Regions from separate parts of the Homo sapiens genome. Here region 2 is linked to region 1. Evidence: fine-mapped expression QTL. A gene starts in region 1. The other region holds a variant in brackets. All regions are shown on one strand. Distances are between the middles of the regions. Region 1 holds the start of VNN2 (vanin 2). Region 2 has its middle 18 kb from the start of VNN1.

Region 1 (5,384 bases):
GACTTAAAGGTTATTTGATTCCTTTTTTCAATTCAGAATTTAAAGTAAACATTTTATGGTTTGATCTTAAATCTATAAGATGGTAATTAAATTAGCTGGTGTAGAAAATAAGGTATTTTGTGGTTTGATAGCAAATTAACTTATGCAAAGCTGATTCATACAATTTTGAAACATCTTTCTACCATTTCAATATTAAATAGTATTTAGATTATGGCTGTGCTCAGTGGCTCATGCCTCTAATCTCAGCATTTTGGGAGGCCAAGGTGGGAGGACTGCTTGAGGTGAAGAGTTCAAAGACAGCCTGGGCAATGTAGTGAGACTCTGTTTCCAAAAAAATATTTAAAAATTAGCATGGTGGCACATGCCTACAGTCTCAGCTACTTGGGAGGCTGAGGCAGGAGGATCACTAGAGCCCAGGAGTTTGAGGTTAACAGTGAGCCATGATGGCTCCACTGCACTCCAGCCTGGGCAACAGTGAGACCCTGTCTCTAAAAAAATATAAAATTATTGAAACAGTGCCCAGATTATAGTCACCTTAGTATCTTTTTTTATGTTAAAATTATTTGTTTTATATGTGCAAAAAGTTTATCTCAATCCTGGACCATCATGCTACTTTTTTTTTTTTTTAACAGTTCTCTGCCTACATGTTTTTCTGAGTAGTTTTTTACAACGTGTCATTTTCTTTTTTCTTTTTCTTTTTTTTCTTTTTTTTTTTTTGAGAGTCTCCCTCTGTCACCCAGGCTGGAGTGCAGTGACACAATCTCGGCTCACTGCAGCCTCCACCTCCTGGGTTCAAGCAAGTCTCCTGCTTCAGCTCCCACATAGCTGGGACTACAGGCATGTGCCATCACGCCCCGCTAATTTTTGTATTTTTTAGTAGAGACGGGGTTTCACAATGTTGGCCAGACTGGTCTCAAATTCCTGGCCTCAAGTGATCCACCTGCCTCAGCCTCCCAAAGTGCTGGGCTTACAGGCATAAGCCTCCACGCCCAGCCAAAAGTGTCATTTTCTTTATTGCCCACTTTCAAAAAACAAAAAACAAAACAAAACAAAAAAACCCTCTAGTAATATTGTATCATATAGGGAATGAAATTCAAACTCCTAAACCCAGCATTGACCACTCACAACACGCTCCATTTTACACGTCCGTCACTCTCTCTTACCTTATGGTAACGTGCCACGAGTTTTCCTTCTGTATTATACACCACATTGGTATTGTATTGAAAGTAGCCATTAGGAGGACATGTGGAGTCACGGGAATTACATGGCTTTTTGTCCCCCAAATTTGCCAAGACATAGATAGAGTTGTCCTTGGCCAGGCAGCTGAGTCTTGCTTGTACTGGTGTGTGACCAAATCTAAACCAAATTATAATTAAGAAATTTCAATTTTAAAAAAATATTTTAGTCACTTTATATGGAAACGATAGCAACTGTAACCACTTAAGTGGAACTTAAGTTAATACAAAAACTATGCCTAAAAATATCATACTTTAAAAGCCACAGATGATTATACACTTGATGAATGCTTCCCACACGGTATCTATTGCTCCAGAAATTCATTATTCGGTCTCCTGCCTCATCAAGGGTCTCCTCTCTACTGAAACATCCCATCAGCAATGAAATATCCTCTAGTACCTCCCATCTTTAAAAAATAAAATTAAAACCTCTTTTGACCTTTCCAAACATGCCCTTCCAAATATTGCTTTAATCCTCATCTCTCTCTTAAAGCAAAACTCCTCAAAAGATCAGTCCCTCTTGCTGTTGCCAGTTCCTCCTCTCCCATTCCCTTTCAGAGCACTCCAACTTGTATCTCTATCACCCAAACTCTTACTAATGCCAGCAGTGACCCCCACATTTTACCTGATCTCATCTTAACTTTTCAACAGCAGTTGGCACAGTTAATTACACCTCCTTCTGGAAACACCTCACTTCTCTATTGGACCCACCCTCTCATTTTCCTATTTATTGGTTGCTCTTCTTCGACTCTTCTGCTGATTCCTCGTTTTCTTCCGAGTCTAAACACTAGAATTTCCTAGTGCTCAAGCCTTATACCTAAACTCTTCTCTAACTCACTCCACAGGTGAACTCATCATGGTGTTTAACACCATCTATATGCTGACATTTGATTTTCTATCTCCAGATATAATTTTGTCTTTTCATGCCAGACTTGTCCATGCAACTGCCACGTTGACACCTCCAGGATGACAGTAGGACCCAGATTTTTAATATATATTAGAAGGTTTCTAGATAACCTTTTCCCAGGAAAATTAGATTTGTGAGCCTAGGAAAATGCAGTTTCAAAGCATAAGGTCTTATGATTCACTTGAAAATACATGGTGAAGTCTTTCTGCCTAAGAAGCAACTCTGGAATGGAGAGACTCTATAACATTGAAAGGGTGTCCCTTCAGCAGAGGCTTTGGAATGTATTCCTAACACAATCCACTGTCTACTTCAGAAATTAAGTTACTACTTGTATCTATGAGATCTCTTCCCTTAGTTTTTCTTGCAGGAATACCCTATTTACACATTTTCTCAAAATTTAATAAAGATTTTCAATCACAAAAGATTGTTAAATAGTATCTAAGTACAATTTTTTAAAATCTGACAAATGTTGAGATAAATATAACCATAACATATACCACATATATGGTAATTCAAGAGCAATCATTTTGCTTTGGTGAACGTGCGCATTTTAGAGAGTTACTTTTGCACAAAAGACTAAGATAGTTAAAATACCTGTGGGGGTCTTGACACGGAATCCAGTTCACCTGAGGGTCTGGGATATCCTCCAGATAAGGGAAAACAGTTTCCCTGGTAAATTTCCATCCATAAAGTGCATCTTCTGGAGTCACAATGATTCGAGCACCCTGTTCAAAACAAGCAAAATAAAAATGATTTTTCCATGTACAACACAGACAATTCAGCTCTCTCGTCTTCCACCAGCTCCCATGCCCCTCGTGTACATTATGATTAACAGAAATAAGAGAATACCTGCTCAGCTGCCTGCTTGATCGCTGTCTCCAGAATGTCTATATTCTCGTTCATGAGATTCAAGGCATCCTCCTGAGAAACTGGTGTTTCTGTTTTATTTGGCAAAATGACAGCATGTTCATACACTGCAGCTATAAAACTGTCCTGAGTACCAACCTGCAGGGTTATTAGGGCAAAAACTGCCACAGAGATTGGAAAAGAGGAAGTGACCATGGCCAAGGTTTAGTGATTTCTGAAAGCAAAAATAACATTCATGTAGTATTTACAGAGGGGAGAATGTTTGCATAACATGTGGCTGCCAGTTACTGGCCTTTTACTTTATCATCATTTTTCTTCTTCTTCTTCTTCTTCTTCTTCTTCTTCTTCTTCTTTTTTTTTTTTTTTTTTTTTTTTGAGGCGGAGTTTGCTCTGTCACCCAGGCTGGAATGCAGTGGCGCAAGCTCAGCTCACTACAACTTCCACCTCCCAGGTTCAAGCGATTGTCCTTCTTCAGTCTCTGAAACAGCTAGGACTACAGGTGCGCGCCACCACGTCCAGCTAATTTTTGTATTTTTAGTAGAGATGGGGTTTCACAATATTGGCCAGGCTGGTCTCAAACTCCTGATCTTGTGATCCATCCACCTCAGCCTCTCAAAGTGCTGGGATTACAGGCGTGAGCCACTGCACTTGGCCTACTTTATAATCTTAAGAACGCAATATATCTGACCACTTTTAAAGAAAGAAAAGTTGCAGTCCATTTAAGACAATCAGAAAGTATTACAGGGATTGAACAGCATGTACTATTAGTACTAAGATTTAATATTGAATTTCCAAAAGACACCCGAATTCAAATATAGAACAATTCCAGCTTTTGTTAATAGAAACTCATAACTAACTCTCGTGTAAAAAAATCACATCCCAACAAATATCTCATTTATTAAATTTAAAAATTGACAACAATTTTTTTGGTTCTGTTGAGTCACTTACATTGTGTTTATTTTTAGACGGGGGGGAAAATATTAAATACTTACTACTAAGAAAATGTAACACAGGACAATATTGATAACAAAATTTACCCAAATCTACACTCTGACTTACTTATTGCTATTAAGGACTGAAAACATGTGCTCCAGAAAAGCAGGATTTTGTGTCTGGTTTGTTCACTGCTGTATAGTTAGTGCCTACAGCAACAATACCCCGAGGCACCTAGGCCAGAGGAGGAATCTCAGCTCAGGGGCCCCAGGCCTCAGGATACTCCGCTTCTTTCCTTCTTTCTCTCTTTCACCCTTCCCTCCCCATCCTCCCCCTACTTCTCCTTCTCCTCCTACTCCTTCTCCTCCTTCTTTTTCCTCCCTCCCCACCCCCTGCTTTGGAGGAAGATGCCAGGGAAGGGGAAGAGTCCAGGATTGGTGATAAAGATCATCTGTGTTGTAATAAGGAGAAGATGTAACTTACATTTTTGTTAGCAGCAAATAACAACAATGAGTTTAAAAACAATGCTAACAGGCCAGGTGCAGTGGCTCATGCCTGTAATCCTAGCACTTTGGGAGGCCGAGGCAGGCAGATCACCTGAGGTCAGGAGTTCAAGACCAGCCTGGCCAACATAGTGGAACCCCCCATCTCTACCAAAAACACAAAAAGTAGCTGGTCGTGGTGGTGGGCGCCTGTAATCCCAGCTACTCGGGAGGCTGAGGCAGGAGAATCGCTGGAACCCAGGAGGCAGAGGCTGCAGTGAGCTGAGATCACACCATTGCGCTCCAGGCTGGGCGACAGAGCGAAACTCCGTCTCAAAAAAAAAAAAAAAAAAAAAAACAATAATAACAACAAATACAGGATGTGATCTCAGATGCCTTCTTAGGACATTCATATTCTCCCTTCCCCAGGCCCAATCCTGCCAAATAAAGGATTTGTTTTATTTTTATCCAGCCCTTTGGTAAAAGTCACGGAAATGCTTTTAGACAGCATAGAAGAGTAGGTACGATTAAACAAAGTTTATTCTGTGCTTTCCTTCTTACTGAGATAAATGTTTTGTTAAGAATGGGGCCTAGGGGCTATAAATAAGATCTGCTCATATTTTCTGCTTTGAATAGAAGTTTCTATTAAAGGAATAACTTTTCTTATCTCTATAGAGCAGAAAACTAAAAATAATTCAGGAAAAATGGTCAAGCCCTTTTGTGGAAAATGTAAAGGGATAGATATTTTTATGAATTTTTAGCAGATTGTATAATAGACTGTTAGTATATAACCATACTATCTAGTGTATAATTAGTAAATTAGCATAGGTGATTGGTATATAATAGATTATGAGTGCTGTTAGAGTTTAGAAATCATGTAACCCAAATGCCCACTTATTACAGGATAGGAATCTGAGGCATAGAGAGCTAGAGCGACAGAGCAGGATGTTCGCTTCTCAT
Region 2 (5,384 bases), 25 kb before region 1:
AGATATTTATCCTTGGTATAAGAAGAGAATGTAGCATGGTGATAGCTGGCTTCAAATATTTGAAAGGCTTAATTTATAGGAGATGGGTCATATGTGTGAACATAGCATAGAATGCAGGAAAAAGACGAAAGGAAGTTAAAGTGAGGCAGATTTCAGCAGAAAATAAGACAAAAAATGTTTAGCAACCAGCTCACTCTGTTAAATAAGTGGATTTGCTAGTCACTAAAAATTTTATTATAATATGGTTCATCTAGGCCCTTAGAGTCCATTCCGTTAGCACAGTTAAATGACATAGCTGTTTTAATTCCAGCCAATCTAATGATCAATCATGAGATCATAAGCCTTCCTTTTTTCACATATTTGTAATGCAAATAGTAATGCCAACTACATAAATTGAATGTAATAATGGGTATAGTATACCAGGTACAGTTCTTGGGACCAAGTAAGTGCTCAGTAAATGAAAATTGCTATTATGGATTGTGTGATTAGAGGCCATTCCATGTCTCTCTATGAACTCACAGCCCCTCTGCAATTGAGGTTAAACTAACCTTTGAATAAAAAGGACAGATTAATGGCCTACTGGTTTAGACCTTTTCTTTTTATTTTCTTCTAAAAAAAACAGAGAAGTACTATTAATATTCATATTCATTAAGACCTTTAATAACTTTATCATGTACTTTGTTTAATTTTTCTTTTCTTGACTAAATAATTTGAGTTATTTAATATTTCCTACTAGTTACTCGTGAAAAAAGCCCATGGAACTGTTTGACATGTCAGCATTCTAAATATTTAAATGCACAAGGATGACCGCATGCCTCTCTACTATTCTCTTCAGGGATAAATATCACCAGGGAGAAAACTGACTTTCTTTTCCAATATTATCATTATATTAAATACTGGATTTCTCCTTTCTGTAACACAAAACTGAAACGTTGTCATTTGAATAAGTAGGTGTAAGAGTTCATAATGTTGACATTTCATCAGTCACCTACTTTCCCAACTTAAAATAATTTATCGATAGCTAATTATCAAATTTATGGATATATTTTCCCTGGAAAAGTCAGTTTCATTAGCCCAGTCAAATACAGTACATTTTCGTGTAAGCCTCATCAACTGCAGCAAATAATGATTCCTTCCTGTTCTGGGAAACGCCTCATAAGCAAGTAGATGTTGAATCATAGTGACATGGTTTCTGTAAACACAGACCATGCAATGTTTAGAGAATATTTTTCCAAAGGGCAAAATCCCAGAGTGAGGTTTGACTCACATAGCTGAGCCTGAATGTTGTACCATTAAGCATGACTTTCCACTTAATTTCACATAGGTAAAATTATCAAAGAAGTTTCTCTTTTTGCACAATAGGTGTAGTTCTAAACAGGTGCATGTAAATTTAAAATTAGCAAGTTAAATGACTTCTTAACCCATCAATTTTGCCATTTAAAGAAATAATCTTAAACTATTTTTAAAAGTTAATACAACTAAAATAATCTATTTCACAGATATCATATTTATTATGCATATTTTCTTTAAGAAAGTTATGCCTAAATTACATCTACTAATAATTACTAAAGTCTCTCAAAGGACAAGAACACAAAGAAGTTCAGACTCAGTCCCTTCTGTTAACAAAAAAAAAAAAGGAATAGTGACAGCTAGCATTGGAGAGTGCATCACAATGTACAAATTCCATGTGTATTACTTCATTACTCTTGTCTGATCTGTAAGAGAATTAAGGGACTCTATTATCCCTGTTTTACAGATAATGAAACAGAAATGTTAAGCATTTAGGTTATACGCTTACATCACTCAGCTAGGTGGTCGTAAAATGTGGTCCCAGAAGTAGGGCTTCCTTTTTCAAGTCCTATACAATTTCCATTGGCCATATTGATTGCATTCTGAATGACAGTGATAGCAAAGCTCTTTGGAAACAGGCTCATTCATCTTTTTACTCTTCCTGTGAAGGAGGCAGGTGTCCATGGATGAACCAACTTACTTGTATTTGGGACACAGGTTCTAGATATTCCAACTTTTTCACTTTGTTCAAACCCAATTAAACACATTTACTATAAAAATTGTGTATATACCTACTATTTTTTTTTCGAGATGGAGTCTCACTCTGTTGCCCAGTCTGGAGTGCAGTGGCGTGATCTCGGCTCACTGCAACCTCTGCCTCCTGGGTTCAAGTAGTTCTCCTGCCTCAGTCTCCCGAGTAGCTGGGATTATAGGCATGCACAACCACACCCAGCTAATGTTTGTATTTTTTAGTAGAGATGGGGTTTCACCATGTTGGCCAGGCTGGTCTCGAACTCCTGACCTCAGGTGATTTGCCCACCTCCACCTCCTAAAGTTCTGGGATTACAGGCGTGAGCCACCACACCCGGCCTATACCTACTATTTTTTTAAGACAAGGTCTTACTGTCACCCAGGCTGGAGTGCAGTGGTGCAATCATAGCTCACTGCAGCCTCAAACTCCTGGGCCCCAGTGATCCTCCTG[C/T]TTCAGCCTCTCGAGTAGCTGGGATTATAGGTGTGAGCCACCACACCTGGCTAAATTTTTTATTTGCCGAAATAGGGTCTGGCTTTGCTGCGCAGGCTGGTCTCAAACTTCTGGCTTCAAGCAGTCCTCCTGCTTTGGCTTCCCACAGTGATGGGATTACAAGTGTGAGCCACCACGCCTGGTCACACCTACTATTGTTGAAAGACAATTGCAACAAATAACCAACTAGTCATCAGTATCTCAAGTCATTTACCAAACAGGAGATATGCCAGATGATATACACTATGAAACATAAGCAGTATCTGCAGATTCAACACTATTTCTTTTCTTCTTTTTTTTTTTTTTTTTTTTTTGAGACAGAGTCTCACTCTATCGTTCAAGCAATTCTCATGCCTTAGCCTCCCGAGTAGCTGGGATTACAGGCACACACCACCACACCCAGCTAATTTTTGTATTTTAGTAGAGATGGGGTTTTACCACGTTGGCCAGGCTGGTCTCAAACTCCTAATCTCAAGTAATCCACCTGCCTTGGCCTCCCAAAGTGCTGGGATTATAGGCATGACCCACAGCACCCAGCCTCAACACTATTTCTAACATACTACCAATGTCATTTTTTCACAGATTTATAAACAAAATTTCTAAAATTCATATGGAACCAAAAAAGAGCCTGAATCGCCAAACCAATCCTAAACAAAAAGAACAAAGCCTGAGGCATCACATTACCCAAGGCTACAGTAATCAAAACAACATGGTACTGTTAGAAAAACAGACACATAGACCAATAGAACAGAATAGAGAGCCTAGAAACAAAGCCGCACACCTACAGCCATCTGTAGCTCAAACAAAGTTCACAAAAATAAGTATGGGGAAAGGACTCCTTATTCAACAAAAGGTGCTGGAATATCTGGCTAGCCATATGCAGAAGATTGAAACTGGACCCCTATCTTTCACCATGTACAAAAATTAACTCAAGATGTATTAAAGATTTAAATGTATGACCTCAAACTATAAGAATCCTAGAAGAAAATCTAAGAAACACCATTCTGGACATGAACCTTGGAAAATAATTTATGACTAAGTCCTCAAAAGCAATTGCAACAAAAACAAAACTTGACATGTAGGACCTAATTTAACTAAAGAGCTCTGTACAGCAAAAGCAACTATCAACAGAGTAAATAGACAACCTACAGAATGGGAGAAAATATTTGCAAACTAGGCATCTAACAAAGGTCTACTATCCAGAATCCATAAGGAACTTAAATCAATAAGCAAAAACAAAACAAATAACCCCATTGAAAAGTGGGCAAAAGACATGAACAGACACTTCTCAAAAGAGGACATACAAGTGGCCAAAAAACACGTGAACAAACACTCAACATCACTTATCATCAGAGAAATGCCAAGCAAAACCACAATGAGATATCATCTCACACCAGTCAGAATGACTGTTAACAAAAAGTCAAATAATAAAAGATGCTATGGAGAAAGGGGAACACTTACACACTATTGGTGGAAATGTAAATTAGTTCAGCCATTGTGGAAAGCAGTTTGGAGATTTCTCAGAGAACTTAAAACACAGCAACCATTCGACTCACAATCCCATTACTAGGTATATACCCAAAGGAAAGGAAATCATTCTACCAAAAAGACTCGTGCACTTGTATGTTCATCGCAGCACTTTTCACAACAGCAAAGATATGGAATTAACCTAGGTGCCCACAAGAAGGAACAAAATCATGTCTTTTGCAGCACCAAAGGACATTATCCTCAGCAAGTTAACACAGGAACAGAAAACCAAATACTGCATGTTCTCACTTATAAGTGGGAGCTAAGCATTGGGAACTCATGGCCATAAAGATGACAGCAATAGACACTGGGAACTAATAGAGGGGAGAGAGAGAGAGGAAGGCAAGGGCTGAAAACCTTCCTGTTGTATACTATGCTGGGTGGTGCAATCATTGTACCCCAATCCTCAGCGTCATGCAATTTGCCCATGTAACAAACCTGCACATGTACTCCCTCAATCTAAGCTAAAAGTTGAAATTACAGGGAAAAAAAAGCATCTACATCCTATGCCACAGATTGACTATTTATCAACACAATTACCAGTCAAATTCAGTGAGTTTACTGTTGGTGTTTTACCAAATCACAACTTTTTGTTTAGAAATTAATGATATGATATTACCTCCAGGGGTCTCTACATGGAATCCAGTTCACTCCAGGGTCTGGTATATCCTCTAGATAGGGGTAAATGCTCTCCCTGGTGAAGATCCAACCATAGATTCCATCTTCTGGGGTCACAATGATATGTGCACCCTGCTCGAAACAAGTGGGGCAAAAAAGTTTGTCATGAATTCCAAATACTCTTTGACCAAACTGCAAGTCTCCTTTACAAGTATAAAAGGGTAATACCTGCTTCGCTGCCAGCTTAACTGCTTTCTCCAAAACATCTATGTTCTTGTTCATCAGGAGCAAAGCTTCTTCTTTTGAAACAGGTGTTTCTGTTCTGTTTGGTAATATCACCGCATGCTCATATACTGCAGCAATAAAAGTGTCCAGTGCACCAACACTCAGAGCAAGGAGGGCAAAAACTGCCACACATTTTGGAAAATGTGATATAATCATAACTAAAATTTAGTGATCTTTGAAAAACAAACTCAGATTCTTACGTTTTGTTTCACTGGAAAAACTTTACATTAAATCCCTCCTGGCAATCAGCTGTTTATATTTTCTTGCACATATATTACACAACACAGCATTGAGAAAGGATGTTGTGCAAGAAAACTGACAGCCAGGACGTAATTGGATTGATTCAAGTGTACAGTGCAGTTGTTGACATTGTTCAGAGTCAAGTCAACACTAAAAGATTGAGCCAACCAGATGAATTCACCCC

Evidence for each region.
Region 2: its variant is fine-mapped to the expression of VNN2 in whole blood (INTERVAL, PIP 0.99).

What each region holds. Positions count from the first base shown.
Region 1 is chr6:132,754,680-132,760,063 of GRCh38, forward strand. It overlaps VNN2 (vanin 2), which reads right to left and starts at 3,225. Exons shown (of 7, transcript NM_004665.6): 1 at 2,992-3,225; 2 at 2,737-2,867; 3 at 1,164-1,356. The coding sequence starts at 3,204.
Region 2 is chr6:132,729,577-132,734,960 of GRCh38, forward strand. It overlaps the pseudogene VNN3P. Among named protein-coding and RNA genes, the nearest start is that of VNN1, 18 kb to the left of the region's middle. The variant C/T (reference allele first, on the strand shown) is at 2,492.